7 linked regions of the Homo sapiens genome follow. The protein of the gene in region 3 purifies or fractionates together with the protein of the main gene of each other region. This does not show direct contact. Each region holds a gene or a part of one and is shown on either strand. Other genes may lie near its edges.

Region 1 (3,500 bases), on a different chromosome or scaffold from region 3:
TTTTAAAGAAAAGCAGGCTGGGTGCGCTGGCTCACACCTGTAATCCCAGCACTTTGGGAGGCCAAGTCATGTGATCACCTGAGGTCAGGAGTACAAGACCAGCCTGGCCAACATGGTGAAACTCTGTCTCTACTAATAATACAAAAATTAGCTGGGCATGGGGACAGGCACCTGTAATCCCAGCTACTCGGGAGGCTGAGGTAGGAAAATCGCTTGAACCTGGGAAGCAGAGGTTGCAGTAAGCTGAGATCGTGCCATTGCACTCCAGCCTGGGCAAGAAGAGAGAAACTCTGTCTCAAAAAGAAAAAAAAAAAGAAACAAGGAAAAGGAGAAAAAGAAAAAGCAGTATATTATTCAAGAAATTTTCAAAAATTGATTAAAAATACAAATCCCCATACATAGAAAGCATGATGAATCATGAACTGGATACATAAAAGAAATCCACATCTCTATTTACCAGATTATACAACTCCAGAGGACACTATCCACAGAGACACCACACAGATGGTGTGTTCCCTGGAGGTGTGCAACGCAGTAGCCCTAACAGTGAAACTGCAGAACACCAAAAGCAAAGAGAAGGTCCTAAAAGGAGCCAGAGAGAAAAGACAGACTAAAAAGGCACTAGACTGAGGTTGGTTTTTCAATAGCAACAATAGAAGCAAGAAGAAAGTGGAATAATATCTTCAATAACATCCTGTGAATCCATAAATATTTCAAAATAAAAAGTTAAAAACATTCAAGAGCTAATACACTGGACACATCAATAGCATGGAATCCAGGAGGGGTAATCAGAGATTAAGTGTTCTAAGGCCTTCATATTGTTTAGAAGGAAATTAAACATACAGATTCACAGCAGGGTGCAGGGGCTCACGCCTGTAATTCTAGCACTTTGGGAGGCCGAGGCAGGTGGATCACCTGAGGTCAGGAGTTCGAGACCAGCCTGGCCAACATGGTGAAACCCTGTCTCTACTAAAAATACAAAAATTAGCCAGACATGGTGGCGGGTGCCTGTAAACCCGGCTACTTGGGAGGCTGAGGCAGGAGAATCACTTGAACCCAGGAGGAAGAGGTTGCAGTGAGCCTGAGATCACGCCATTGCACTCAAGCCTGGGCAACAGAGCAAGATTCCATCTTAAAAAAAAAAAAAAAAAGATACAGATTCACTTTATATTTCGTTAAATTAAATGTTAAAAATTTAGAGTAAATATTAAAAGAATAGAAATCAAATAGAAACCAATAAAATGTGGGGGGAAATTAACATAAAAAATCAAGAAATAAGGGGGAAATACAGAAAAAGACACATAGGAAACATAAAAAAAGAAAGATATATAATAACTAAATCCATAATAAAAATAAGTTGGGTAAGCGCTCAATTCAAAAGACAAGATTTTCAGTTTGCATACCAAATCTAGCTATGTTTTTTTCTTTGTTTGTTTTGTTTTTTTTTTTTTTTTTTTTGAGACGGAGTCTCGCTCTGTCACCTAGGCTGGAGTGCAGTGGTGCAATCTCGGCTCACTGCAAGCTCCGCCTCCCGGGTTCATGCCATTCTCCTGCCTCAGCCTCCCAAGTAACTGGGACTAGAGGTGCCCGCCACCATGCCCAGCTAATTTTTTGTATTTTTTAGTAGAGATGGAGTTTCATTGTGTTAGCCAGGATGGTCTCAATCTCCTGACCTCATGATCCACCCACCTTGGCCTCCCAAAGTGCTGGGATTACAGGCGTGAGCCACCGCGCCCGGCCTAGCTATGTTATTTTTAAAGAGACATACCTAAATATAAGGTATGAAAGGTTTCATTGTTTTATTTGTTTCATTGTTTTATTTATTAAGGAAATCTTACTTTCTTTAATTTTATAATAGTTCTTTTATCAGGTTGACCAGTTTCCTCCCATCTTCTTATTCTTTAGGAATGATTTAGTTATTCTTGCCCCTTTGTATTTCCACATACATTTTAGAATCATTTTGACTTATTTTACATCCACTGAAAAGTTGAGATTACATTAAATTTAAAATTCATTTTGGGAAAAACTGAAATCTATACCTTCAAATCTCCCTATCCATAAACAAAGTATACCTCTTTTGTTTCAGAACTCTGTGTATTAGCCAAAGATCGCAGCATTTATTCATAGAAAACAGCTAAGTAGAAACAGTGAGTTTGAGGTGTTTGAATTTGCCCTACCTATCCCCATTCTTCTCTCTCCAGCTCTATGATAGTCTTAGAAACCCACAGCCCACAATCACGATGAAGACCAGCAACCTAGGAGCCGCTGGAGGGGGCAGAACAGGTTGGAGCTCCTTCAAAGCTTCATGCTCAGAAAACTGTCATTATTTAGCCTGGCCAGTAGTTCCCTAGAAGACCCTACTATGAAAGCTGTCTTTTTTTATTCTTTGTTTGTTTTTTATTTGAGACGGAGTTTTGCTCTTGTTGCCCAGGCTGGAGTGTAATGGCGTGAACTCAGCTCACTGCAAACTCCACCTCCCGGGTTCAAGCAATTCTCCTGCCTCAGCCTTCCGAGTAGCTGGGATTACAGGCATGTGCCACCACAGGCAGCTAATTTTGTATTTTTAGTAGAGACGGGGTTTCTCCATGTTGGTCAGGTAGGTCTTGAACTCCCGACCTCAGGTGATCCACCCGCCTCAGCCCCCCAAAGTGCTGGGATTACAGGCGTGAGCCACTGCACCCAGCCTGAAAGCTGTCTTTATTTGACCTTACTCAGAGCCTGCCCAGTATGAACAGCCTTTTCCCCAGCAGCATCTGTTAAAAAGATTTAGAGGTGCCAGGCGCAGTGGCTCACGCCTGTAATCCCAGCACTTTGGGAGGCCAACGCGGGTGGATCTCTTGAGTCCAGGAGTTTGAGACCAGCCTGGGCAAAATATTGAGACCCTGTCTCTACAAAATAATTTTGTAAAAATTAGCTGGGCATGGTGGTGCATGCCTATAGTCCCCGATACTCGGGAGGCTGAGGCAAGAAAATTGCTTAAGCCCAGGAGGTCGAGGCTGCAGTGAGCCATGATCACACCACTGGACTCCAGCCTGGTTGACGGAATGAGATCCTATCTCAAAAACAAAAAAAAATTTACAGGCAATTGTTGCACATTGTGGCTGCCGAAGCAGTAAGTAATAGCTGGTGACCACAATAAACTAACAAAAATGCTGAAAAAAAAGTTAGAGAATAAGATGTCCACAGTGAATTGGAAAAGCTCCAAAATATACCAGGGTATCTACAAGCCCAATGTACATGTATAGGATGTGCTCATACCCAGGGCTGTGCATTTGCTCAGGAAAGACTTTAGAAGGGGCTGGGCATGGTGGCTCACGCCTGTAATCCCAGCACTTTGGGAGGCTGAGGCAGGTGGATCACTTGAGGTCAGCAGTTCGAGACCAGCCTGACCAACATGGTGAAACCTCGTCTCTACTAAAAATACAAAATTAGCCAGGTGTGGTGGCGCATGCCTGTAATCCCAGCTCCATGGGAGGCTGAGGCAGGAGAATTGCTTGAAC
Region 2 (3,173 bases), on a different chromosome or scaffold from region 3:
ACAGCTGACTCCACTTCTACATTCCTACTGCACTGCCCCTTCTTACATCCTACTTGGTCTCTTTCTTTCCGTTCTCTCCCCTTTCCATTCTCTCCCCTTTCCATTCCATTTAGCACACTGCTGCCAGTGATTCATTCTGTTTAGCCTTCATCATGTCACTCCCCTGCTGAAAAAGCTCTAGTGAATATCCATTGCCTTTTATGTATAAAATCCTTGGCCTGGCCTGCATATGACTTCCATGTGACTCCACAGTCGTATTTTTTACCAGTTGCTTTCACATATCCGTGCTCCTTCCAGCCTTCTCATGATTGATCATGTTGTAACCCCAGCTTGGAGTGAATACCACTCTCCCCATTTCCATACTTTCAAATGCTTTCCCTGTCTTTTCAAAGCTTTCCCTTTCCTCACCCGGATCTAGAAGTAGTCTCTTAGACTTGGTAACATTTTTCACTTTTTATCTTGAACTACAGTTATACAATATGTTTTGCATTTGTCTTTTTGGAGAACAAGATACAAAACGGAGGTTTTTTTAATATTAAAATAGCAAACACAGTATTGGTATTGGGAGTATTAGAAGCAAAGGGCCAATGAATATCTGCTAAATTGACAAGTTAATGAAAAAATAATTAGTACATTAGTACTCTGTCACCCAGGCTGGAGTGCAGTGGTGCAATCTTGACTCACCGCAACTTCCGCTCCTGGGTTCAAGCGATTCTCCTGCCTTAGCCTCCCAAGAAGCTGTGATTACAGGTGCCCACCACCACACTCAGCTAATTTTTGTATTTTTTTGGTAGAGACGGGGTTTCACCATGTTGGCCAGGCTGGTCTCGAATTCCTCACCTCAAGTTATCTGCCCTCCTTGGCCTCCCAAAATGCTGGGATTACAGGCATGAGCCACCACCACACCCAGCCATTAGATTTGTTTATTAACATCATTGTTAAAAATGACAGAAAAATGCAATCATTGATTCATCCTTATAGAATCTAATACTTATTCCTATTTTCAAGTAGATAATAAATGATAAGAAGCTAAGTATTTAAGGACCCTAAGTATTTAATGTGCCTTAAGTATTCAAGTATTTATTGTTTTTTAATCAATTAGATCATTAATTATAAAATAGCTACTATAAACTACAAAAATACTAGGACTGTTGAATTAGGAAATCATATCTATTATCTGCTAATTGCTGGAGACTTTTAAAAATGAATCACTGTGTATTTCAGAAATGAGTCTTTTCATAACATCTTTCTACCATTTATAAACGAGTCTAAAATTCTTTTTCAGAAAGCAGATGATAGAGAAAAACGACAAGAAGCCCACCGGTTTCATTTTGATGCTATGTGACTTGCCTTTAATATTACATAATGGAATGGCTGTTCACTTGATTAGTTGAAACACAAATTCTGGCTTGAAAAAATAGGGGAGATTAAATATTATTTATAAATGATGTATCCCATGGTAATTATTGGAAAGTATTCAAATAAATATGGTTTGAATATGTCACAAGGTCTTTTTTTTTAAAGCACTTTGTATATAAAAATTTGGGTTCTCTATTCTGTAGTGCTGTACATTTTTGTTCCTTTGTGGAATGTGTTGCATGTACTCCAGTGTTTGTGTATTTATAATCTTATTTGCATCATGATGATGGAAAAAGTTGTGTAAATAAAAATAATTAAATGAGCAGGAATTTTTGTGTCCACTTGACTTGGTCTTGCTTCTTATTCTAATGATGCAAATTATACTTTTGTGAATATATCACGGAGTCATTAGGCATTCAGCTTCATCACAGCAGGTCAGGGGTCTCACTGATGGCATACAATATAGTGATCGGGTACTCTGACTTGGTAGCACAGTAAGACAGACTTGCCTTAAACTCCTAATTCAACCACTTACAAAGTCATTGTTTGAACTTGGCTCTTGTTTAACCTCTGTAAACCTCAGTTTTCTTGTTTATTCAGTGGGGCTAATACTTGAGTTACTGTAAACATTAAATGGGATGATGTATGTGAAGTGCTTAGCTTGGTGCCTAGCACAGAGTAAGTGGTCAATATGTGGTAGTTGTCATTATTAATATTTTAGATGATCTTATTAGACTTATACATCTAATTATAGAAATACATAGACTTGATAGAATTTTATTTTCAGGCATGAAGAAATATTCTTTGGAAAAGCTAAATTTTTGGTGATTGACATAAAGATTTACTTGCTCATATTAACTAAAAATTATAGTACTCTCCAAGAATTAATGTGCCCTAAAAATTTTCCTCCAAAAACTTATCCTTATCATGTGATAATGAAGAACATTTGATTTCTTGAAAGGAAACTGCTGTAGGCAGCATCTGGGAATGCAAATCTTCAATCACATTTCTATTCTCAAACACTTGGAGAAGTCTATAATTTACATTCAGACTTCAATGCAAATTTTGTATTGTGAACTTCACATTTCCAAAAAGTTACTTTAAAAAGACTTTAAGACTGAAAAAAAAAAGTTTATCAATGCTAATAATTTTCTAGTATGCAAATGGACATGTGATGCCTATAAAACACAAAAATTTCTCTGAAAACAATTTTGTTCTTATTTTTTTCTTTATAGTTCACTGAGATTGGCATGTGTTTTTACTTTGTATCTAAGCATGTTAACATGTCTTCTTAATAAATATTCCTTATTGAAACAAAGTATTTCAGTGAGTTTTTAAATAATTATTTTAGAGCATGAAGAGACCTTAGAGCTTATGAAAGCATTTATCTGGACTGGGAGACCAGGGTAAGGTGACTTGCCCACTGCCTCTCTGTGGGTCACGGGCAAGATAGGATTCTCCTGACTGTAATACTCAGTTAAATTCACTAGTTATCAGCCCACAGCACTGTCCCAGGCACTACGTGACACTTTCTCAAAGATAATTGGGATCATTATTGATATAGCCTGAGTCTTCAAACTCATGTGAATCAGAGTTTACAAGACAAATAAAATGTTAATGACAATTAAAACTACAATCAGTGACATTAATACTGCTTCTGTATTTCCAAATGCAACTTTAATATCATTTATTAAGGGACAGCAGGTAAAAAATGTATCACAACATTGAGAATCACTAACAAAAACCTTTGTTTTGATTTTGAATATTGCAGTGGAAAGAGAGCAAGGCTTTGAAGTCAGACCAGTCTGGATTCA
Region 3 (3,500 bases):
GCCACGTGAACCATGTAGGAAGTCTGTTGGAAAACTGGGGCATTATCGTTGACGTCGGAGATGTGCAGGGTGACAATTATGCTGGAGGAGAGGGGCGGCTTGCCCCCGTCGGTGGCTGTGATGGTGAGATTGTATTCTGGGATCTCCTCCCGGTCCAGAGCGCCGTCTGTCACTAGTTTGTAATAGTTCTTTGAGGAAGATTTCAAAATAAACTTGGCATTTCCCAACACTTGGCAGTAAACTTCTCCATTTTCTCCAGAGTCTCTGTCTCTCGTTTTTATCAAGGCGATCACTGTTCCTGGTGGCGAATCCTCCGGTAGGGGAGTAGATACTGAAGTCACAATAACTTCAGGTGCACAATCGTTGTCATCAAGAATTTCAACTTGGATACTGCAGTGGGCTGCTAGATCTCCAGGATCTTTTGCTTCGATACTCAGAGTGTAACTACTTGCAATCTCAAAATCCAAATCATCCTTTGTCGTGATTTCTCCTGTTTTTTCATTTAAGTTGAAAAAGTGTTTCACTTGTTCGTCCACATTATGAAAGGAGTAGGTGATCTCTGCGTTTATGCCTTCATCCCGGTCGGTGGCTGTCACTTGAAGCACAAAGAAGCCCGGCGGCACGTCCTCCCTCAGGGTGACCCTGTACACGTCCTGGCTGAACACTGGAGGGTTATCGTTGGCATCCGTGACTTTGATTCGGATTTGGGTCGTGCCACTTTGAGGTGGGTCTCCGCCATCCACAGCTGTGAGGACCAATTGATGTAAACTGTGCTCTTCTCTGTCCAGAGAGTGTTTTAGAATCAACTCAGGATATTTACGACCATCTGGAGTCTGTTTCTCAGCGAGATCAAAGTACTCGTTGTCATTAAGGTGGTATCTTTGTAGTGAGTTAGGACCAACATCTGAATCCAGGGCTGGGTCAAGTGGAAATGTTGTACCTGGCTTAGTGGATTCGCCAATTTTTAAATTAATCTTAGTCTGTTTGAATAGCGGGGTATTATCATTTATATCCTGCACAATTACTGCTATGTAGAAAATATTTAGTGGATTTTCAGCGACAGTATCGAAATCCAGAACACACAGAGGCTGCTTCCCGCATATCTGTTCTCGGTCTATTCTGTCACTCACAAGTAAGTCTCCGCTTTCTGGGTTTACTGTGAAATATTCCTTCTCCGCGCTAACCCGCAGCTTCCGGGCTGGCAAGTCCCGGACGCTGAGCCCCAGATCCTTGGCGAGGTTTCCTACGACCGAGTTTTTGGCCAGCTCCTCTGGAATTGAATAGCGGATCTGGACTGGGAGAGCCCCGGGGAACAAAGACAACAGGAAGGGCAACAGTACCTGCAGCCACCGCACCAGCCCGCACCTCCCTGAGCTCGCTTTCATCTTCTGGCTCCCTTTGCTCCTTTGCCCATAGGAGGAATAAGCCTTCCGGGGATGGCAGAATCCGGGCTAAGGTCACTTTTCCTGCTTTTGTTTTCTGTTTCCGAATCTATACTGGCCTTCTCTGTGTGGTTGGTTTGTGCAGGAAGTTCCCCTCTAAGAGGCTCCCAAACGCTTCTCTTCGTTCTTTTGACCAACAGCGACGCTCAGAGGTTTTCTCAGGAAACTGCACTAATGGCTTGTCAATATTTGCTAAGAACTTTTTTCTTTTCTTTTCTTTTTTAATTTATAAAGTCTTCATTTGTTTTAAAATATGTGAAATATTCATATAGTTCCAAATTCAAAAGATGCATTCAGCATAGGTTCTTCCTTTCATCTCTGCTTTAGATGAGGAGAAATGCTTTCACAGGGGAAATGAGTGTTAAAGTTTCTTAGGTATCCTTCCGGAGATATGTCTTGTATAGGGCAACGGATTTTTATAAATATTCTGTCTCCTTCTTTACACAAATGTAAGCATACAACATACCATATTCTGCACATTGCTTTTTTAGTTGTTATATCTTAAAGATCATATCAGTACATAGAGAGCTTTCCTATTTATTTCTTATAGTTATCTAGTGGCCCATAATATAGTTATCTAGTAGTCCGTAATATGAATATACAACAATTTGTTTAATCAAAATTGTTATTTGCTAAAAGAAACCCACTGCCCATTCTAACAAAAACACATTTTTTAAAAAATTTGATTTTAGGTTATAAATTATCTACTGCTTTCCTAGGCCTTTAAAACATGTGGCACTCTCATTCTGGAATATATTCCTAATGCCAACACCTGAATATGCTTGACACAGTTTCAGACCAATTGAGCATTTCCAAATTATATTTTATGGCTTAATTACTTTAAACAATCTCTCCTCAGATGTAAGTTGTCTCTCAACATTCACTTGTTATTTCTGCTTTCTGCTCCCCAAGCCAGGTAACTGCATCATATCATATTCCAGCTTACTCTATGTATTGCACCACAACTTTCTATGAATACAAAACCATGTAGAAACTAAAACTCTCCTTTGTAAGTCAAATTGAGGCATATTCCACAGTCTATCACTACAACTTCCAGTTATCAAATTACACTAATTTGTGTAAGCATATGCATTCATGAATTTTGAATTCTCACAGAACCTAAATGAAAGCACAAAGAACAAAAGTGTTGTATATCCCCTACACACAAAATATTTTCCCTCATATAAAATAATCCCAGAGCCACATGATGACAGAAATATCTGAAAGCAATTTGTAGCAATAGGGATGAGGCCACCTTACTAAGCAGCGTAAATCATATCAGTCCAGAACCCAAGTAACTCAACCTTTGAAAGAGGCTCACATGATGACAAGAGAAAAGACTCCAAAAACTTATATTTTCCTTGGAAATCAAGAAAGTCTCAATAGTGATGTCATGATAAGCAATTTAAAAATTATTAAAGTTACTCCTAGAATCTACTTATATATGACTGAAATTAGCTTGGAAATATTTCTCATAATCACAGGAGTGCACCAGAGGAATCACACATAGTCACTTCTGGTGCATCTCAGAACAGCAACAAGAAAATATTTGAAATATACCAGTTCATTGAGAAAATATCCTGTTAAAGTTATATCTAAAAGTTAAACTCACAAATTGCCAGTATTCTTAAATTGACGTTGCCTGTTATAATGGAAAATACCCTTTCAAGGAAGGAAAAGTAAACTTCAAGCAAAGCATGGTAGAGTGTGAAAATAGGAAATTAAAAAACCCTCAGTCCAGATCCAACAATAGCTTCATGAGAAAGAATATTGTAAATGTGAATTTACACAATTGCCTTCTATTTTACAGGTCTCTTGTATCTTTTCAGGAACACCTAAGAGAAAAGGAAATTTATTCTTTATTTTACTTTATTTTATTTTACTTTTTGGAGACAGAGGCTTGCTCTGTTGCCCAGGCTGGAGTACAGTGTCATGATCTCAGCTCATTGCAACCTCTGCCTCCCAGGTTCAAGCAATTCTCATGCCTCAGCCTCCAGGGTAGCTGGGACTACGGGCACACACCACCACGCCTAGCTAACTTTTTGTATTTTAGTAGAG
Region 4 (3,500 bases), on a different chromosome or scaffold from region 3:
CTGACCTTGTGATCCACCCGCCTCGGCCTCCCAAAGTGCTGGGATTACAGACGTGAGCCACCGCGCCCGGCCGTTATTCTCTCTTAAGACACTAAAGAAAAAAACAAGTTACTGAATCATGTGCAAGTGGAATGCTATTCTAAGCAAAGGAAATAAAAACAAAGGGCGGCAAAGGGGGGAAGATTGAGGATGTAAGGAAATGCTTTGCTCATATACCACGGTGACTGTGCAAATTGCATTTTTTTCAAAGGATAATTTGGCAACATGTATCAAAATACTCAGAATCTTTTGACCCTACAATTACACTTCAAGAAATTTATTCTAGTGAATAATCAGAAATGAGTGCAAAAATTTAACAGGAAAAGATGCATATTCATATATTATCTATAATAGTGAAAAATTACAAACAACCTAAGTGACCAACAGTAGAGGATGGTGTTCAATAACTCACATTCTCTCAAGCCATTAAGTAGTATTGTAGAATATTTCATGACATGGAAGGTTGTCCATTATAGGTTATTCAATAAAAAATAAGTTCCAGGTCGAGTGCAGTGGTTCTGCCTGTAACCCCAGCACTTTGGGATGCTGAGGTGGGAGGATCACTTGAGTCCAGGAGTCCAAGGTTGTGAGCAGTAATCATGCCACTACACTCCAGCCTGGGTTACAGAGCAAGACCCTGTCTCTAAAATAGAAAAAGTTGTAAAAATAGTATTTTTTTTATAATGACAGTGAATTCAGGGTATGTTTGTCCATTCTGTATTGAAATAAAGGAATATCTGAGACTGGGTAATTTGTGAAGAAAAGAGGTTTATTTGGCTCACAGTTTTGTAGGCTGTACAAGAAACATGGTGTCAGCAACTGCTTCTGGTCAGGACCTCAGGAAGCTTCTACTCATGACGGAAGGTGAAAAGAGGGCCAGTGTGTCACATGGTAAGAGAGGGAGCGAGAGGGAGCAAGAGGGAAGGGAGAAGGTGCCAGGCTCTTCCAACCAACCAGCTCTCGTGTACTAACAGAGCAAGAACTCATTTATTACCGCAAGGAGGGTACCAAGCCATTCATGAAGGATCAACCTCCATGACCCAAACACCTCCCATGATACCCCATCTCCCACATTGAAGATCACATTGCAACATGAGATTTGGAGGGGACAAACATTCAAACTATATCAGAGGAAAAGCATTTCTTTTTACTCCTTCCTAAAATCCCACTAAAAGGACAAAATAAAAGGAGGAGGGAGACAAAAAAACCTACTCAAGTCACACACAAAAAACTGGGAGTCAGAAAAGTTTTGGTGTTTTTTTAGCAGCAATATTGGAAGCTAGAGAAAAACTGAGCACTATTGTCAAAATTCTGAAGGAAAGTGATTTCTGACCTAGATTTCTGAAGCTAGAATAAAAAATAGTGTTCATACTATAAAGTGGTAAAAAGTTTGCTTCCCATGTAATTGTCTCATGAAGCTACTAAAGGACATGCTCAAGCAAAGCAAGGGGCTAAGCCAAGAAAGAGGGAGCAGGGGACACAGGAAACAGGGAATTCAACAGGAGAGGGGCAAGTTAAGATCCTCGGGTGAAGACAGGAAAAGAGGATGTCCCGTCCAGGTAGGGCAAGTGAGAAGGCTCAAGGGAGACTTCTTCAAGAAGATGAAAATGCTGTGTCTGAACATATGGAGGGGACATTTAGAGAGCCAGAGAAGAGTTGGGTTGAAATAGCAATAAAAAGAGAGAAAACTAAGCAAAGGAAAAACATAAGACAATGATTTAACTGTAAGGAATCAAAAAGCTGCGTAGGAAAGAAAATCTATTCATAGTACACCACATGGCTCAGCTGTAAACATTATCTACATAGTTACTACAATGTAAACACTGAATACTGAGTAAATAAAGAATATGGTCTAACTGTATGGAAGGGATGGGGGGATAGGAGCCATGTGTTGAGGAGTGGATGAAAGGGAGTTAAATTCTCACCTTCCATAATGAAAAACCAATAGATATGGAGGTAAATTCCAAAAGATTCATCTGAAGAGTTTAAAGTACTACCCATGGGAAGGGAAAATGAGAAAAAGGGTTTCAGGGTGGTCATTGTTTTTCCTATTAGTCCTTATAAAGCTATTCAACTTATTAAACTACAATATGCTTAAACTTCTGTCAAACAAAAACTAAAATGAAACAAAACAAAAATAAATGATTACAATCCACCAGCCCCCATGTCATGTTCCCTCCATCCCAGTATCTGTCATGAATTATTGTAATTACTCTCTAATGTCTGCCTTCCATGAAGTCAGGGACTCTGTCTGCCTTTTTTCTCACTTATTCCAAGTACCCAGTATAGAGCCTGACAGATATAGAAGTTCAATAAATATTTGTGAGATAAATGAATTTTTCTTTAACAAAATCAATGTACAGACATAGGAAAGAGAGTAAGGTTCTATAACAAAATGTCAACAGTAGTTCTCATTTAGTCATGAGATTATGTATCCTTAAATATTTTTCAAACATTCTTTAATTGATGTGCATTACTTTTGTAGTTAAAAAGTCATTTTAAAATCTATTTTTACAGACAATGTTGGGAAGAACTACGAGTTTCAAACCTGAGAACACCTCATGGCAAAATATAATCATTTAAGCATCTAATTTCATAAGAAAACCTAGGCTGCATTTATTGTGACTGAACTTAAAAAGATGAAGTGATGGCCAGGCACAGTGGCTCACGCCTGTAATCCCAGCACTTTGGGAGGCCGAGGTGGGCAGATCACTTGAGGTCAGGAGTTGGAGACCAGCCTGGCCAACATGGTGAAACCCCATCTCTACCAAAAGTACAAAAATCAGCCGGGCATGGTGGCAGGCGCCTGTAATCCCAGCTACTCGGAGGCCAAGGCAGGAGAATTGCTTGAACCAGGTAGGCAGAGGTTGCAGTGAACCGAGATTGCGCCACTGCACTCCAGCCTGGGCGACAGAGCGAGACTCCATCTCAAAAAAATAAAAAATAAAAAACAATTTTAACCCCCCTAAATTCAGATGTATGGGCCCAAGTAAAAACAAACAGTACATCATTACATCTGAATCTCTTCACAGCTGTGCCTCCAGGTGACACAAGTCTGAACCCACTGGCATTTCCTACCCTGATGTTTAAGGCATTGGCTTTCACAACAAGCTGGCCCTAGCAAAGCAATTTACTTGCAAGGAAGTTTGTCTTACAATTGCTACTGCTCCTGAGAATAAATTTGTCACATGTGGCTACTGCAGGTATCTATGTGTGTTATTCGAAGGCCATTCAAAGCTCACCATTGTAAAGCACAAATCCTGTTGTTTGAAGGAGCACCGGAAATATTAAAGGTGGCCATACATAATAGCACAAATAAGAAGTTACCTGTGGCTTTCTTCAAGCTGTTTCGAGGCCGAGCCGGCGTGGGGCGGAGGGTCTTCACGGGGTCTTTGGGACCTTCTTGGCAATCTCCCCCTCTAAAGCCAGGACAGCACCTCCATTCCAACTGTGTCACTGTC
Region 5 (3,500 bases), on a different chromosome or scaffold from region 3:
GTCCTTAGCAGTAGAAATTATTAATTTATTAAATCTCAACCTTTAAATATACACCTTTTTAATAATCTGACAAAATGGAAAATATTCAGAAAAACATTTATGCTCCATACCAAAGTACAATAGTTGTCTCCAAGTTTGATACCTTGGATATGCTAATAACCCTGATCCAATCACTAAATAGTGTATGTATTAAAACGACAGTATGTACCCCATAAATATGTACAATTATGAGTCAATTTAAAAAACAAACTAATTTTAAGAAGTTGAGACCTGCTGATGTAAGCATAGATTAGCTTGTGAGTATCATTAGCATTTGTGCAATTATTTGAGTTACAATATGCTCTAGCTGCTCTTTTCATAGAACACCATTTTGACTTGAAAGAATAATTGGTAGACAAACTACAGTTATTGAGACTTGGATACTTGACAGAGAGTTTTTTTTTCGAGATGGAGTCTTGCTCTGTCACCCAGGCTGAAGTGCAGTGGTGCAATCTCGGCTCACTGCAACCTCTGCCTCCTAAGTTCAAGCAATTCTTGTGCCTCAGCCTCCTGGGTAGCTGGGACTACAGGCATGCGTTACTATGCCCAGCTAATTTTTGTGTTTTTACAAGAGACGGGGTTTCACCATGTTGGCCATGCTGGTCTCGAACTCCTGGCCTCAGGTAATCTGCCTGCCTCGGCCTCCCAAAGTGCTGGGATTATAGGTGTGAGCCACTGCGACTGGCCGAGGGACACTTTCTTAAAGATGAACAATGAGACCGGGCATGGTAGCTCACGCCTGTGATCCCAGCACTTTGGGAGGCTGAGGTTCAAGGATGGCTTGCGGCCAGAAGTTCAAAACTAGTCTGGGTAACACAGCAAGACCCCATCTCAAAAAAAAAAACAAACAACATTTTTTTTTTAAAGAGAAAAAAAGATGAACAATGTGAGAATGGCATTTCAAGGAAAACTAACAGTATTTGTTGCCAATGTTAAAAGTTGAGCTTTTAAGTGAAAATTAAAATTTTGGAAGATTTCAGTCTACCAGTGGGAATTTGATAGCCTCCTAATATGTACATAAAGCCTTTTCTGGTGAGATTGGTGGTTGTATTAACCAAAGTGACTTTTTATATTACATAATGAACTGTGATGACTTTTGGAATAGTTGCCAAACTTAGGGAACCAATAGTTTCCAAATGACTAATGCACAATGTAAAGTCAAGCATGGGTAAAAAGATCCATTCAAAGTACAAAATGGACCAAGGGATGTTAAAAGTACCAGAGTACAAAATATTCATGAATGGTTTTAGATTCCACAGTGTAAATGACTTCTAAGAAACTATCATTTACTAAGTTTTGATATACTATCAAAGACAAAATATCTACAATTACTTGAAATGAAATATTGCTCTTTTTTCCAACTACATATCTGTGCGAGGCCAGATTTCCTCATGTACTTCAGCCAAAATAACATACTGCAACAGATTGAACACAAAAGCAGATAGAAGAATGTAGCACTTTTATAAGTTAGCTTTAAAGAGACTGGCAAAAATGTAAACAAATGTCACTCTAATTTTTTTTTTTTGCAGGGGAATTGGTGCCTGTAATTTTTTTTTGTTTTAGAAAATACTTATTTTTCATAAAAATATCTTAAGATGTGATAGGTTTCATTGTTATTTAGTTGATTTAATAAAGTTTTATAAATTTCTCTTTTAACTTCTAATATAACAAATATCGATAGATAAAATTTTGTTAAGAAAACCTTTTGGGTTCTCAGTTATTTCTACAAGTGTAAGTATGTACTGAGCCCAAAACGTCCGAGACCCGCTGCTCTAAGCATAGAGAAGCTTGTGAAGATCATTTGCCTGGTGGTGGCTGAGCATGCTCGCCTGATGCTTCCAGGATGCCCTGCTCCCCCAGCTCTTCCAGTCCCTGCCCTGATTACAGTGCTTTTCCTGTGAAGGCCAAGCAGCCCACAAGGCAACACCTGCCGGCCTGTGTGCCTCTATTTCCTACTGTGGTACATGCTGGAAGTTGCCTATGAGTGACCACAAAGGGCAGCTCAGTATAGTACCTCTGGGTCTAGCTGGCTCTGAAAACAGTTCCAACACAGTCTACACAAGGCAAACGAGTTAAGTTTGGGAGGGTGGCATTCAAAGTCTCTTTCCAAATTCCTGGTTGCTGTCAGGTGCTTGTTCAGGGGGTGAGTGCATTTTATGTGTTGTATTTTTCTTAATCCAGCCCCAATTCAGGTTGTAGAAACTACATCTTAGCTGTGTCACTATTCCACTACTGGAACACTACTGCCAGTTTTCATAATTTTCAGACTTACTGGGTTTTAGATTACTGGGTATTTTAATGAAAACATGAGAAGAGATTCATCAGGTACATCTGCTGCTGTGCTAGTAAGTAAAGGTCTGAAAAACTCACCTGCTCTGGGCTCATATACAGTTTGGTCCCTACTTGTCCTGTGTGTCTGGCATAAGCTGGCATTGGGGTCAGAACCGTCTGCTCTTCCTCATCCTGGTCCATTGCAGTCACTAACCCAAAGTCTCCAACCTTGACCACATCATCCATTGTAAAGAATATGTTGGATGGCTGGAAAGAATACAACAGACAAAAGTACAGTGGGTGTGCATGGAGGCGAAAAAGTAAAGAGAATTATTTAAAAGACTACAAAGAAAAAATACAACAAACTAGATATTTTCAAGCATATTTCTTTTTAAAATGGGCTAACAGGAAAATAGTGACAATTTTTCTGTGCCAGACAAGTACTGCTAGTAAAGAAAAGGGAAGGGTAGCAAAGAGTGCTAGTATTTATTGAACATCTACTTAAACCCTTTGAGGTGCACATTCCCTAGGGATCATGGTACTTAATCCTCAATCTTATTATTCTATATATTCTTCCCAGGCAAGCATCTCTACACTTATGACTTAAAGCCTTAATAATTATAACTAATAATAACTAGTTCATAAATAGAACTTGCAATGTGCTAGGCACTGTTCAAAGCAGTTTACTACTACTAACTCATGTACTACAACCCCATTAGATGAGTACTAACCCCATTTTACAGACATAGAAAGTGAGGCCCAGAAGTTAAACAAATTGCCCAAGGTTACCCAACTAGCAAGTGGTGAAGCAGGGATTCAGACCTGAGCAGTCTGGCTCTATGAGGAAAGGACCTTGTGATCCACTGCCACGTGCCCAGATTTCAGTCCAGTTCTTGCTCTATGGTAGCTAATTACTATTTGGTGAATGAATGAAACAGACTGATCTTTTGGTTTGCGTCTGAGGGGGATATAGATTATCAGAAGGGATAAGAGCTCTTCACTACTACTCTATGCTGCCTCTCGTAAAACCTCTATGTTCTCAAGACTATATCTACTCCCAGATCTCTGCCCTGAGTTCTAAACTCATATTACACTGTTTATTGAATACATCTAACCAGAGGTCTCATGGGCTTCTCAAACCCAAGGTGCCCTACATGAAATACATCACCTCTCCCTCAGAGTCTACTCTA
Region 6 (3,500 bases), on a different chromosome or scaffold from region 3:
TACCTAAAGAAAAATTATCTGATATGTGTTTATATTATGACTAATAGCATCTTCATTATGAATCAGGAAAGGGACTTGGGAATCACTATAGTGTTATGATTGGTTTCTTGAAGACAGTCATGTGAATGTCTGGGTGTAGACAAAAAAGGAGGAAAAATATGCCAACAAATCTATGGTATTATAAGGAAAGCTTTGGAAATGTAGTGGAAAATATTGTACCCATGTAAAAAAACATGTTTTTTCTACCCTCAAAACACAGATGTCTCCTACTCTTTGTGTTGGATAGGTCCTGGGATCTTTGAAATGCTAAGATTCTTGGATACCACAGTATCATAAAATTCCTCTAAATGCAGTAAGTATACACATAAGTATGACCGTAAATTAGGAATAAGATTATTTATGTAACTGCTGAAATAGCTGACATAGACTATACCACCTTACAGTATTGCTTTAATTATCATAATAACCGTGTTCTTCCCTGAACTTCACCAGCAAATGGATTTCTGTTCAGGGCCATTTTTTTACAAAGGCATGAATTTTTATTTTGTCAGAAAATAATGTACATTGAGTAGAGAGCAGTAGAGCTGAGTTGAGGTACCACGTTATCGTTTATGTCATTAAGTAACTTTTTCCTATATAATATTTGTTTGACTTCCTACCACGAGATTCACATGGGTACTGTGTTATTCCTGAAGAGATAAAGTAATTCTGAATGCTAAGAATTTTCCTAAAGGTTGAGCATCCCAAATCTAAAAGCCTGAAATCTAAAATACTCCAAAATCTGAAACTTTTTGAGTGCTGACATGAAGCTCAAAGGCAATCATCACTGGAACATTTTGGATTTTGGATATTCAGCCAGTAAGTAATGCAAATATTCCAAAATCCACAAAAATCTGAAATCTGAAACACTTCTGGTTCCAAGCTTTTTTGTTTTGTTTTGTTTTGTTTTTTTGAGACGGAGTCTCACTCTGCCACCCAGGCTGGAGTGCAGTGGCGCGATCTCGGCTCACTACAACCTCTGCCTCCCAGGTGCAAGCAATTCTTCTGCCTCAGCCTCCCGAGTAGCTGGGACTATAGGCGCATGCCACCATGGCTGGCTAATTTTTTTTTTATTTTTAGTGGAGACGAGGCTTCGCCATGTTGGCCAGGCTGGTCTAGAACTCCTGACCTTGAGTGATCTGTCTGCTTTGGCCTCCCAAAGTGCTGGGATTACAGGGGTGAGCCACTGCTCCCGGCCTACTTCCAAGCATTTTGGTTAAGGAATATTCAGTTTGTACTATTTGACCCAGACTACTCAGAAAAAGTAATGTAATGAAGAATGAAAGCTGTAGTTGTAGTGAAGTAAATAGGAGACTGCTGTGTGATGACTGACCAAAACGATTTGTATTAATTTATCTTGAAAACTTGTGAGCAAAGTCTGACTAAAAATTTAAAGTTGTGACTGGTATGGCTGCATGAAACAAGTGTCAGAATATTAGAATGAAGGTACATGATGTGAAGTTTCAGAAAATTAAGTGGGCTTCACATAGGTCTCATTTCATGAGGAAAGTCAGATAATTTCAAAATGTAGTAAGCTTATCGTCAATTCCTGATTAATATTGGTTTGTTGAAGGTTGTGGCTGGTAAAAGACATGTCATATATTGTTTTTGTCAACTCAGTATCTCTTCATTAGAGAACCACCCCTCCCCTATTCTGAGTGGTTGGTGGGCTGTCCGTCAGTCTTACTGTCTTATAACCTGAGCTTGGTCATCCCTATTGCAACAGTGATTGCTGTTACTCATGCAGAGCCAGTCAGAATCCTTTTTTTGAAATTTATGGTTGAATGCTAGGACAAAGATACTACCTTTTCTCTGAAATTGTTAATCTGGGAAGGTGCTGGTGGCATTCTTTACCACGTGTATGAAAAGCGCATCTGTGTAGTGGGAGAAAGTGAAGCCATAAGGAGATGGGAGATGGATGGTGGTAGTGCCAGTTTCAATCTCAGGGAACATGGTAAGTGGTACCTACTTTTCTTTTGATTTTGTGAACTATCCTGGTGTCCTTCTCAGTCCTTGTGCCAAAATTTTTTGTGTAAATTGGTTTGAATTGGATTGCAGCAGAAAGTGTTCTGATGAATATATGGCCCTTATGAATTTAAGGTCTAAAGTTTCAGATTGATCATTCACATCCTTCTGTAGTTCCCCACTTTCCTATACCTTATAAAGAGTTCCCTTTATTTATTCATCATTTGTGCATGCATTCAATCTACTTTCACTCAACCTACAAACATTTTTTTGAGTGTCCACTATGTACAAGTATGTGCAACTGCCTGGATAGGCAAGATTATATGTACTAGACTGAGTGGATGGTGGATATATAGCATATTTTTATTTATTTCTGGTGCACAGATTAATAAGCGTGTGTTGAGAATAATGACTGTGGTGCTTGGCATCTAAGTAATAATGTAAGAACAAGAAGAATTCCTTGTCTTGGAAGTGCTTCTAGTTAGGAATTCATATTAATATACAGCAAACACAACAGAAAAAACAGATAAATGAATGCACAGTTGTATTTTAAGTGAATTTTGATGGGAAGGAAGTGAGCAGGTTGGCCCATTTAGGAAGATTTCCTGAAGAATATACAACTTTAAATGTATTTCTGCTTATGAATGTGGCTTTGATAGGCACAGAGAATAACTGAAAAAAGGATGGAGTTAAAAATGATTATAGGCTGATCCAGGTTGGAGTGGAGATTGGTTTCACTGTAACAGTATGTGTTCTTTGGAAATGAGGTAGTGGAAAATAAGGTGACTGTTTTAGGTAAATCTATGTATGAGGCATTTGGAAAGCCAAGCAGAAATTTTGGCCCTTTCTACTAAGATGGAGATTTCTTTGAAAAAATGTGTATATTTCTTTTCATATAATTTCATTTTTGTATGCTAAAATGTGAATTAAATGTGATGAAATACTGTAAAATTACTCATTTTGGCAAAAACCTTTGTTTTATTCATCTGTCTTGAAGATTTTTTAAAAATAGCAATTAACTTGGAATGCCGATTTATAAATATGTATATATAACCTTTCTCAAAAAGGGAAAGGTAAGAAGAAATGTTATATATATTTATTTATTTCTTCTTACCTTTCCCTTTTTGAGAGATCTCTTAGTAATAGTCAAAGCCATACCCTATTCCTTAGTGAGAAAGCCAGTTTGAAACGAATGTAGCAATAGATGTAAAAACATTTAAAGGCGTTTTAATGTGGCTTTTTAATGAGCTGGCTTATGCCTGTAGTCCCAGCACATTGAGCAGCTGAGCTGGGAGGATCGCTTGAGCCCAGGAGTTCAAGACTAGCCAGGGCAACATAGTGAGACCCCATCTCTATTTAAAAAAAAATGTTTTTAAAGATAAGGAACAGACTTAAAGTGATGATTGATTGCTCATAGAACGTTCATTTTGGGCTCCAGAACTAGGAATGATGTAGAATTTATTGTTGTGTCATTGTCTCATTAAATGCTGTAGTTT
Region 7 (3,500 bases), on a different chromosome or scaffold from region 3:
ATAGTATGTACTCTTGATTTATGTGAACATGACCATCTGTGGTAAGAAAAGATCAACTATAAAAAATTTTTAAACCAGCAACACGTTTTTAATAAAACATGGTTCCTACATAAGCCAACTAATTTATTTGCTGCTGATCAGTTCAAGAAATAGGGATTTGTTTTGAGGCTATAGGAAAAACAGTTGTGGGTGGTGTGCCCTTTGGGAAAGAGGTGGTATACCTCAAACCAGTTATCATGAACTTTGTGTGGAACTTTAGAAGAACTTTCCTAAGCAGTGTTGATTGCATGTGATTTTTGCTTCACACATTGAGTTCAGAACTTACTCCATTTAAAATGTATACGTGTGGTGGTTCATGCCCGTAATCCCAGCACTTTGGGAGGCCGAGGCGGGGGGATCGCAAGGTCAGGAGATCGAGACTATCCTGGCTAACACAGTGAAACCCCGTCTCTACTAAAAATACAAAAAATTAGCCCGGCGTGGCGGCTTGCGCCTGTAGTCCCAGCTGCTGGGGAGGCTGAGGCAGGAGAATGGCATGAACCTGGGACGCAGAGCTTGCAGTGAGCCGAGATGGCACCACTGCACTCCAGCCTGGGCAACAGAGCGAGACTCCGTCTCAAAAAAAAAAAAAAAATGCAAACCATGCAGGAGGTATAGAGTGGCTAGTCCTTCTTCAGTCTGACAAGCACGTCTTAATGCAGCCAGAGGTAACAGGTACAAGGCTGTGTACGAGTATTGGAGATAAAGGCTGGTTGGGCACTGGCTCCATTAAGAAATGCAGATGTGGTGCAAGAGATAGCAGCAGGAATCAACAGCTAAGATGAAGACAAAGTGGGTTGGAGGGCAGAGGGTGCAGTGGGACGTAGGCAAGAGGACATAATGGGGCGGAGGGAAGAGGATGTAGTGGGCTGAGGGGCTGCCACGGAGGGGTGCCCAGTTCTGCTTCTGCTAGAAGGGGCAGGGGAGTGAGAGAATGTCAGCCAGGTCAGAGAAGATGGGAAGAGTCCCAGGATGTGCTGACGAGGAGAGTCTGGCATGACTGGTCTGAGGTGGGCCGTGATGACAGACAGTGTGGAAGAAATAAGAGCAGCCTGGAGGGCCCCTGGGTGCCAAGCAAAGAGGTGCAGCTTCTCTCTGGAGAAGCTGCCTGGAGGGTTGAATGAAGAGATTGGTGGGTGTCTTGGTCCAACTTACCTGTTGGCAGCATGGAGAGTGGGTTGGCGGGCAAACAGTGGAGTCAGGGAAGCCTGCTAAGAGACCAGTGGAGTAATCCAGGCAAGTTCTGAACTAGGGGAAAGCTGACGGGGTTGAGTGGTGGGGACCAAGAGACGGGATCCATGGCAGGAACAGTGACATGCAGAGGAACCTGGCATGTGAGAGAGGGAAGAGGCCAGGCTCAGCCTAGGACCTGCAGATTCCGAGGTGCACATGGACCACAGATGTCCCGCAGGGCTGAGAGTGTGGGTGTGCCCATGGTAGGAGGCTTATGATGGAAAGAGGTCAGCTGGCCTTACAAGGTCATTTGAAACAACACCCAGGCAGGGCTGACCAGGGGCTTCTAGTAGGTAGGTCTTGTGCTGAGGAGAGAAGGCAGCACTGGAGACCCGGCTTGAGAGTGTCTGCACGGGGCTGGAGATGCAGGTCATAAGAGAAGATGCATGGAGAGAGAGAGTGAAAAGCGGAAACTGAAGTTGAAGCAATGGACTTGGGGGTGCCCCATTGATGGGGTAGGCAGGAAGACATTGGAGCCAGGAGGAGGCAGGAAAGCTGCTGTGGTAAGCTCTACACTTCAATGTGCTGGTATGTGTGGTGGGAGACGCTGGAGCAGTGCCAAAGTCATCCATCTGACCTTTAATGTTGTGAAATGTCATGTATGGTGAACTGGAGCTCTGCTTTCTCCAGAAGTGAGTGGGCCTTGGCCCGGTTTACTGGCCACAGAGACATTCTACCTGTTATCTACCTTCAGGAGACATCTACCTGTTATCTGCATTCTATGAAATGTGCAAGTTGTACAGATTCCTGGGGCTGGAGCAGCTCCCTCCCCGATCCTGCTCCCTTTCTCCTCTCTTCCTCTCATCCTCTCTCCTTTCCTCCTTAGTATCTCAAAAATGCCCCCAGAGATACTGTAGGCTTAACAGAGGGATCTTCAGAAATCCCAGCAGGTCCCTATTATGACCTGGCTCAAGCCAGAGGCATGAATAGTTCTGCTTTTCTTTTAGGCATTCTGTTTCCAGACAACCAGTTATACCAAGTGGAGAAGGTTCATCTTGGGAGGTAAATGAGGGATTGGACGCAAACCTTATCATGTTTTCATCATCGTTTTCCCCAGAGGGCTTCATTAAATGGTACCCTTCCCATCTTCTCCCTTCATGCTTTGACCCAGCCCAGACATGCTGGGCCTCAGGGAATCCAGCTGCCCTGCAAACAACCTCCACATGTGCCTGGGGCAGGCCTCTGGGCTCAGGGGCAGCTGTGGTGACCGGGCTGGCCCGGACTGCACGTGGCCTTGCTGTCTCAGTGGTATGTCTCTTTCAAATGACCTTGCAGAGCTTGCTGCCCTGGTCACAGCCTAGCAAACCTCCTTCATCCCATTTGCTGCTCTCCTTGCTGGCTGACAGCCCAGCTTGCACCTTGGGGGCCCCTGGCTCAGTCACGCGTGGGAGGATTCCCATGGAAACCCCAGGAGGAGGAGAGGCTCAGGGAAGCCTCATTGATTCTCGCTCCAGGAAAACAGGCGTGAGATGATTCCACCTGGAACTGGACAGATGGCTCTCTTTGTGAGCTCTTGGGGAAGAAAGGGCTTGCCCAGCCAGTTGTAGCCTGAGCTCCATGTGTGTATAGCAGGGAAAAGCTAATGAATGCCTATGAACAAAACCTTGGGGGTTCTTTAGTTCATTCATTGTTGGTGGGTTCATTCTGAATGAGCATCTTTAATAAAACAGCCTCCCTACTTAATATTTGCACAAGAAAAATCTTAAAAACATTCCAGTTAAACTAAGGTCAGGCACCTATCATTGGTACCTTTGCACAGAGTCAAAAATTGAAAAATAAAGACATGAAATAAATAGTCTGAGCTCACAGTGCTCTGCATTCCCAGTTCATTCTTAAGTGTTGGTTCTTTCTAAGGCAGTGTATTGCTTTTCTTCATTTGTTCGTGCTCGTGCATTCCATAGACGTTCACCCACCACTTTCTCTAAGCCAGGTCCATGGGGACTCTGATGAGGGACACCCGGCCCCTGCTCCCAAGTTGCCCCAGTCCGATGGGAGGGAGGCAGCCAAAGAGACATCATGTCCCCTTGTGATAAGAGCTGTGGTGGGCACAAGTACAAGGGCTCTGAGAGCACAGGGGGCTGGGGAGCTCCCCAGAGGCACTAATATCTAATATCCTGAAAGCCTCAGAGAACCTGTCGAGGATTTTGAGCAGGAGCGTGATTAGATCAACTGTGTACTTTTACAAGTGCAGTAGTATATATTTGAAAGTAATATGCAGTCTATAAAGG

The links.
Region 1: the proteins of PCDHGA4 (region 3) and MELK purify together in Homo sapiens (affinity purification with mass spectrometry; one large-scale study listed by BioGRID and IntAct). This does not show direct contact.
Region 2: the proteins of PCDHGA4 (region 3) and ITFG1 purify together in Homo sapiens (affinity purification with mass spectrometry; one large-scale study listed by BioGRID and IntAct). This does not show direct contact.
Region 4: the proteins of PCDHGA4 (region 3) and EMILIN2 purify together in Homo sapiens (affinity purification with mass spectrometry; one large-scale study listed by BioGRID and IntAct). This does not show direct contact.
Region 5: the proteins of PCDHGA4 (region 3) and EIF2AK3 purify together in Homo sapiens (affinity purification with mass spectrometry; one large-scale study listed by BioGRID and IntAct). This does not show direct contact.
Region 6: the proteins of PCDHGA4 (region 3) and ZNF518A purify together in Homo sapiens (affinity purification with mass spectrometry; one large-scale study listed by BioGRID and IntAct). This does not show direct contact.
Region 7: the proteins of PCDHGA4 (region 3) and SPSB4 purify together in Homo sapiens (co-immunoprecipitation; one large-scale study listed by IntAct). This does not show direct contact.

What each region holds. Positions count from the first base shown.
Region 1 is NC_000009.12:36,659,895-36,663,394, reverse strand, and holds part of MELK (maternal embryonic leucine zipper kinase), read right to left. Parts: intron 1-3,500. UniProt on the Homo sapiens protein: Serine/threonine-protein kinase involved in various processes such as cell cycle regulation, self-renewal of stem cells, apoptosis and splicing regulation. Has a broad substrate specificity; phosphorylates BCL2L14, CDC25B, MAP3K5/ASK1 and ZNF622.
Region 2 is NC_000016.10:47,153,891-47,157,063, reverse strand, and holds the end of ITFG1 (T-cell immunomodulatory protein isoform 1 precursor), read left to right. Parts: intron 1-1,285; coding exon 1,286-1,345; 3' UTR 1,346-2,673; downstream 2,674-3,173. UniProt on the Homo sapiens protein: Modulator of T-cell function. Has a protective effect in graft versus host disease model.
Region 3 is NC_000005.10:141,358,021-141,361,520, reverse strand, and holds part of PCDHGA4 (protocadherin gamma-A4 isoform 1 precursor), read right to left. Parts: intron 1,528-3,500; exon of another isoform or gene 1,386-1,527; coding exon of another isoform or gene 1-1,385. Other genes in the region: PCDHGB2 (protocadherin gamma-B2 isoform 1 precursor), read right to left, coding at 1-1,385. UniProt on the Homo sapiens protein: Potential calcium-dependent cell-adhesion protein. May be involved in the establishment and maintenance of specific neuronal connections in the brain.
Region 4 is NC_000018.10:2,885,006-2,888,505, reverse strand, and holds part of EMILIN2 (EMILIN-2 precursor), read right to left. Parts: coding exon 3,367-3,500; intron 1-3,366. UniProt on the Homo sapiens protein: May be responsible for anchoring smooth muscle cells to elastic fibers, and may be involved not only in the formation of the elastic fiber, but also in the processes that regulate vessel assembly. Has cell adhesive capacity.
Region 5 is NC_000002.12:88,568,465-88,571,964, forward strand, and holds part of EIF2AK3 (eukaryotic translation initiation factor 2-alpha kinase 3 isoform 1 precursor), read right to left. Parts: intron 2,578-3,500; coding exon 2,410-2,577; intron 1-2,409. UniProt on the Homo sapiens protein: Metabolic-stress sensing protein kinase that phosphorylates the alpha subunit of eukaryotic translation initiation factor 2 (EIF2S1/eIF-2-alpha) in response to various stress, such as unfolded protein response (UPR).
Region 6 is NC_000010.11:96,133,297-96,136,796, forward strand, and holds part of ZNF518A (zinc finger protein 518A), read left to right. Parts: exon of another isoform or gene 1-286; 5' UTR 287-352; exon of another isoform or gene 353-3,058; intron 3,059-3,118; exon of another isoform or gene 3,119-3,500.
Region 7 is NC_000003.12:141,054,347-141,057,846, forward strand, and holds part of SPSB4 (SPRY domain-containing SOCS box protein 4), read left to right. Parts: intron 1-3,500. UniProt on the Homo sapiens protein: Substrate recognition component of a SCF-like ECS (Elongin BC-CUL2/5-SOCS-box protein) E3 ubiquitin-protein ligase complex which mediates the ubiquitination and subsequent proteasomal degradation of target proteins.